Linked DNA regions of Homo sapiens: region 1 is linked to region 2. Evidence: fine-mapped expression QTL. A gene starts in region 2. The other region holds a variant in brackets. All regions are shown on one strand. Distances are between the middles of the regions. Region 1 overlaps ARL2 (ARF like GTPase 2). Region 2 holds the start of MUS81 (MUS81 structure-specific endonuclease subunit).

Evidence for each region. PIP is the estimated chance that this variant, and not a neighbour inherited with it, causes the effect.
Region 1: its variant is the best candidate, but not a certain one, in a credible set for the expression of MUS81 in monocytes after interferon gamma (Fairfax 2014, PIP 0.55).

The regions. Positions count from the first base shown.
Region 1 is chr11:65,018,919-65,021,819 of GRCh38, forward strand. ARL2 (ARF like GTPase 2) reads left to right here. Exons shown (of 5, transcript NM_001667.4): 4 at 1,501-1,581; 5 at 2,803-2,901. All of the region lies in intron 3 of ARL2-SNX15 (ARL2-SNX15 readthrough (NMD candidate)), which reads left to right. Among named protein-coding and RNA genes, the nearest start is that of MIR6879, 1.9 kb to the left of the region's middle. The variant C/G (reference allele first, on the strand shown) is at 1,368.
Region 2 is chr11:65,858,794-65,861,694 of GRCh38, forward strand. It overlaps MUS81 (MUS81 structure-specific endonuclease subunit), which reads left to right and starts at 1,640. Exons shown (of 16, transcript NM_025128.5): 1 at 1,640-2,095; 2 at 2,180-2,309; 3 at 2,557-2,642. The coding sequence starts at 1,961. RefSeq lists enhancers at 503-592, 1,113-1,162, 1,293-1,382, 1,663-2,202, 2,895-2,901 and silencers at 763-842, 1,893-2,052, 2,223-2,312.

The DNA of each region.
Region 1 (2,901 bases), 840 kb before region 2:
GTCCCTGTGGTGTTACTACGTCACTACCCTGAGCATCAGTTTCTATGCCTTGAAATGGTGATGATGACACCCACATCACTGGGCTTTAGGGAGGATAACCCAAGGCCAGTATGAAGCTTCGAGAGGCCATGGAGCCTGGCTCAAGAGTCTGACTCTTTGCTGTGTGACCTCAGCTGGGGGTGGTGGCACGCACCTATAGTCCTAGCTACTCTGGAGGCTCAGACAGGAGGATCAGTTGAGCCCAGGAGGTTGAGGCTGCAGTGAGCTGTGATCGTGCCACTGCACTCCAGCCTCCTGGGCGACAGAGCAAGACCCTGTCTCAAAAAAAAAAAAAAAGGAAGGGGCCAGGTGCGGTGGCTCACGCCTGTAATCCCAGCACTTTGGGAGGCTGAAGCGGGCGGATCACGAGGTCAGGAGATCGAGACCGTCCTGGCTAACATGGTGAAACCCCGTGTCTACTAAAAATACAAAAAATTAGCCAGGCATGGTGGCGGGCGCCTGTAGTCCCAGCTACTCAGGAGGCTGAGGCAGGAAAATGGCGTGAACCTGGGAGGCGGAGCTTGCAGTGAGCCGAGATTGTGCCACTGCACTCCAGCCTGGGCAACAGAGTGAGACTCCGTCTCAAAAAAAAAAAAGAAGGACACTTGCAAAGATAGTACAGAGGTCAGAGGTCCCCCATATACCCTTTACCTTGCTTCCCCATCTTACCTAACCGTGGCCTGTCCAAACTAATAAATCAACACTGGTGAATTACTATTATCTTAATTACAGATTTTATTTGAATTTCACGTTTTTCCACTAATATACTTTTTGTGTTCCAATGTTTGATTCAGGCTACAAAATTGCATTTAGTTGAAAATGAGGACACTTGTGAGAGTGAAAGGGGGGATTCTGCAGGCAGAGTGGGGACTGTCCTGGGCACACCGCACACATCTCCTATGTGGGTGGAGCAGGTCAGATGAGATCAGGGCCGTCAAATGCTGGTCAAGGCAGGTCAAGGCCCAAGGGTTAGACCCGTCCACCCACATCTCTCCCAATCACAGACACATATGTGGAAACAACTAGAATCAGAGGTGGACAGTGAGGCCTGTCGGGAGTGGAACGGTTAAAGGGCTGTGTGAACCCAGAAGAGGGAGAGTTCACATCCTCTGTGCATGTCTGGTCATCAGATTGGAGCAGTCTAGAACCACGGAGAGCTCAGGGATCATCTTATGCAACACCCCTCCCTGTTCATGGAAGAGGAAGCTGGAGCATGGGGACAGCGGTGTCCCCTGGGTGGTGGTTGGCTGGAACCAGAACCCTGGCCCAGGGCTGCTCCATTCATGTGGGCCAGCCTTGATGGCTACGTCCACAAACTCACTCCTGGG[C/G]CTCTCCCACCACCACGGGGCCTCACCTTGATCTTCCAGGTCGATCCTTCACCCCAGATGCTCTGGGCCATTAGAGGAGGGGTCAGGCTGTCCTCTGAGTCCCCACCCCACCCCTCTATCTTTTCTCCCCCAGCGCCTGGCCGGAGCAACCCTCCTCATCTTTGCTAATAAGCAGGACCTGCCTGGAGCACTGTCCTCTAACGCCATCCGCGAGGTGAGTCCAGGCCCCGGGACAGGCTCGCTGAGGGAAAGGGGCATACATTTATTTATTTTAAAAGCATTTATTAAAAATAACCAAAAAGGCTGGGTGCAGTGGCTCACGCCTGTAATACCAGCACTTTGGGAGGCCAAGGCGAGTGGATCACCTGAGGTCAGGAGTTCGAGACCAGCCTGACCAACATGATGAAACCCCGTCTGTACTAAAAATACAAAAATTAGCTGGGTGCAGTGGCGTGCGCCTGTAAGCCCAGCTACTCAGGAGGCTGAGACAGGAGAATCGCTTGAACCCAGGACGTGGAGGTTGCAGTGAGCCAAGATTGCGCCATTGTACTCTAGCCTGTGGGAAAAGAGTGAGACTTCGTCTCAAAAAAAAAAAAAAAAAGAAAGAAGTAAAATAATAATAAGAAAAGCATTTATTAGCCTAGCCCTGCTAGGTGGCAGGACCTATGCAGGGCACTGGGGATCCAGTGATTAATAAGGCATGGGGTGGCCCACAGCCTGGGGAAGGCAGAGCTGCGCATGTGTTGTTCACAGGCTAACGGTAGCCAGCACAAGTCAGTGCTTTCAGTATGCTCTGCTCCTTGCATGGATTAACTCATTTCATTCTCACAACCACCTCATGAGGTGAGAACTATTATTTTACAGATGGTGAAGCAGGCTCACAGAGGTTAGGTAACTTGTCCCAGGTCACACAGCCACTAAATAGACAGGAAGCCTGTGTCTGACCCCAGAGCCCACATTTTAACCATGATTCTAGTGCTCAAGCACCACAGTGAGAAAGAGCAGGGTTAAAATCTTGGCTCTGCCACTTATGAGCTATGTTCCCCTAGGCAGGTTGCTTAACCTCTCTGAACTTTGGTTTCCTCCTTGGTGAAATGGTCGACACAATCCCTGGCTCATGAGGGCTTGAGGAGAATGAGTGAGAGAGGGTGTGTGGGGCTCCTAGCACGATGCCCGGATCCTGGTGGATGCTCAGGAGCCCATGCTGCATTTACATCACTAAGGGGCAGCACTGGCATGGAACTGGACAGAGAGCCCAGGTGCCCCTGGGGTCTGACAAACTCTCCCTGGGACCGGCGGGGCTTCCTGGATGGGATGACATGGAGCAGGGCCTTGAGGAAGGCGTGGAGTTCCTCTGGGCTGGGGAGGGAAGGGGCTGACGGCAGGCAGGGTCTGCAGTCACTGGCCACCACCATCAGCACCTTTGTCCTCCCAGGTCCTGGAGCTGGACTCCATCCGCAGCCACCACTGGTGCATCCAGGGCTGCAGCGCCGTCACCGGGGAGAACCTGCTGCCGGGCATCGACTGGCTCCTG
Region 2 (2,901 bases):
TGAGAGCTTTGTTCTTGTTTAAAGATGTTTGGCAAAGTCATGAGGCGTTAAAGGGTAAAGACGAGGGTTTGTGCATTCAATTCAAGGCTTCTTTACATGCCTTTACGTGCCAATGAGAAGAAATAGATATTAAACCAGACTTGAACCCAGCTCTCGAGTTGATAGCCAGGTACATGGTTATTCTAACATCCGCAAAACTGAGACAAGTTCTGTGGTAGTATATGCCTTAAAAAAAAAAAGAAACGAGCGGGGGACTCCGGGATGATTTTGTTGTTCTAGAACAGTGACCACAGCCTCACACTCTGCAGGAAAAGACTGGGTCGCAAACAAGTCAGAGGCAAACCCAGAAAGGGAACTGGGGGCCCTAATCCTATAAACGGAATTAAGGGTGTAAACGGAGAGCGATGCCTGGGAGTGGGGTACCTTGCAGAGCATACCGGGGGTTGTAGTCGGGGACATTCCACAGCACCGCCCCCGCCCGGACTCCCGGCGCTCCAGGTGGAGACAGCAGCTTGACCCCGCCTCCCGCGAGCGACCCTACATGAATATGAGGCTAGCGCCCCCTTTTCTGAGCCTTAGAGTTTCCAAGAGCAACGGGGAGAGAGAGGGGGGCTTCGCAGTTACCCTGGAGACGCGCTCTCGCCCGCCCCCAGCCGCGGGATGCCCTAGATGTCCTTATTAGGACAAGAGACTCGAGGGGGCGGGGCCAGCCCGACAGCCGGCTTGAGGCTCCTTATAAGGCCGCGGCGGGCGGGAGGCGGGAGCCGGAGCCCATTGGTCCAATTTAGCTTGGCTGGGGCTACTGCGCCGTGGGCTAGGCACAGTCCTGAGGGGCGGGACTGGAGCTCTGGCGCCCACCTCTCCCTTCCTCGCAGGCTGGAGACCTGCGTGTTGCGACTTCCGGCATAGCAGCTAGAGGCCGGGTGCTGCTTCAAACCCTGGCGGGTCGCCTGTGTCCAACTCAGCTATACGTGTCTTTCAGGCTTCTCAGGTTGAAGCCCTTTGTAGGGTTTCCATCTTCAACCTCCCTGAGGGTCTCCCACTTCCGATTAGCCACAAAAATGACGAAGTGTTCTCCCCTCTACCTGTGTCTGGGCTTCTTAACCCGCAGCCTGCTCCTCCGCTCCCAAACCCAACCGCGTGCCCATCTCAGGCCTCCCCAACTGCCAGGATGCCCAAGCACCTCTTACTTACAGTCCTCCTTCCTCTAGGCCTCTGACCCCCGACATTCCGAGTTCTATTTTGGGCCTTCTCGGCACGTCCCCGACTTCCTCTCCACCACACACTCTTTGCCCTGTATCCCGGGGATGAGGATCACCATTTCCTCCAAGGGTCCTGCAGCTCCTCCTGCCTTACCTTTGTGTCCTCATCCCCGGCACCCATTTCTGGGTGTCCCTCCCACCAATACGTTTGCACCCGTTTGTCTCCTAGCCCCCGCCTCTCCTGGACTCTTTTCAAGACCAGTCTCCATCTCCAGCCTCCTTCAAGCTTGAGGCTGAAGCTGACAATCTTAAGAGACCTTAGAGCCGCCAAGCTCAGGTTAGTCCGTTAAGCGCCGCCCAGCCAGTCCTCCCCGTCACAGGGGGCGCTGTCCGCCTTCCTCTCGCCTACACAAAGACCCCGCTCTCGAATCTGGGGTGACAGGAAGGAGCCGGTCCAGGCTCCGGGGGCTGGGAAAGGGCGCGTCTCAAAGGCTGGCTGGAGTGGAGCCAAGGGAAAAGATCGTTAGAGACAGCGCCCCTGACCAACCACTTAGAGCAGCGCAGGGGTGGGAGGGCGGCCGCAGGCTCTCCTCTCGTTAGTGCCCCCTGTGTTTGGGGCCCCGTGATCTCAACGGTCCTGCCCTCGGTCTCCCTCTTCCCCCGCCCCGCCCTGGGCCAGGTGTTCGAATCCCGACTCCAGAACTGGCGGCGTCCCAGTCCCGCGGGCGTGGAGCGCCGGAGGACCCGCCCTCGGGCTCATGGCGGCCCCGGTCCGCCTGGGCCGGAAGCGCCCGCTGCCTGCCTGTCCCAACCCGCTCTTCGTTCGCTGGCTGACCGAGTGGCGGGACGAGGCGACCCGCAGCAGGCGCCGCACGCGCTTCGTATTTCAGAAGGTGGGTCCTGGCGTGGCCCGATGGGAAAAGCTGCTGGCCAGGTCAGGCCTGCCCTGACCAGGTACCCTACCCCTGCCCGGCCAGGCGCTGCGTTCCCTCCGACGGTACCCACTGCCGCTGCGCAGCGGGAAGGAAGCTAAGATCCTACAGCACTTCGGAGACGGGCTCTGCCGGATGCTGGACGAGCGGCTGCAGCGGCACCGAACATCGGGCGGTGAGCGCCTCGGAAAGGGGTCGGTGATCCCCCACCTCCCCCAGGTGGAGCCTCCGTACTCTCCTGGGAGCCCTTGGCTTTTAAGCTCCCCACTCCTGTCCCAGTTGCCGTTCGGCCTAGGGCTAGTGGCTGGCGCTCCCTGAGCCTCCCTCACCGGTCTCACGTAACCATCTGAGTAGGTTGCATCCCAGATCCTCGCAGCTGCCGGATTCGTGGAGTGTGGAGTTAACTCTTTTCTCTCCCGCAGGTGACCATGCCCCGGACTCACCATCTGGAGAGAACAGTCCAGCCCCGCAGGGGCGACTTGCGGAAGTCCAGGACTCTTCCATGCCAGTGAGGAAGGGGCAAGGGGAGTGGAAGGCAAAGTGGGAGTGCGGGAGTATGATTTTCTGGCTTGGGGGATTTGGCAAGCCTGAGTCCAAATCTCACCAGTGATGCCTGGCCTTGAGCAAATGACTTATCCTCTTTTCGACTTAGTATTTTAACCTGTGAATAGAAATATTGGTAACAGCCAATGAGAGAATTCCATGATCAAGCTACTTAAGGATCCCAGCTCAGTTAGTTACGGGGTCACCATTATTGAGTTTTCCTG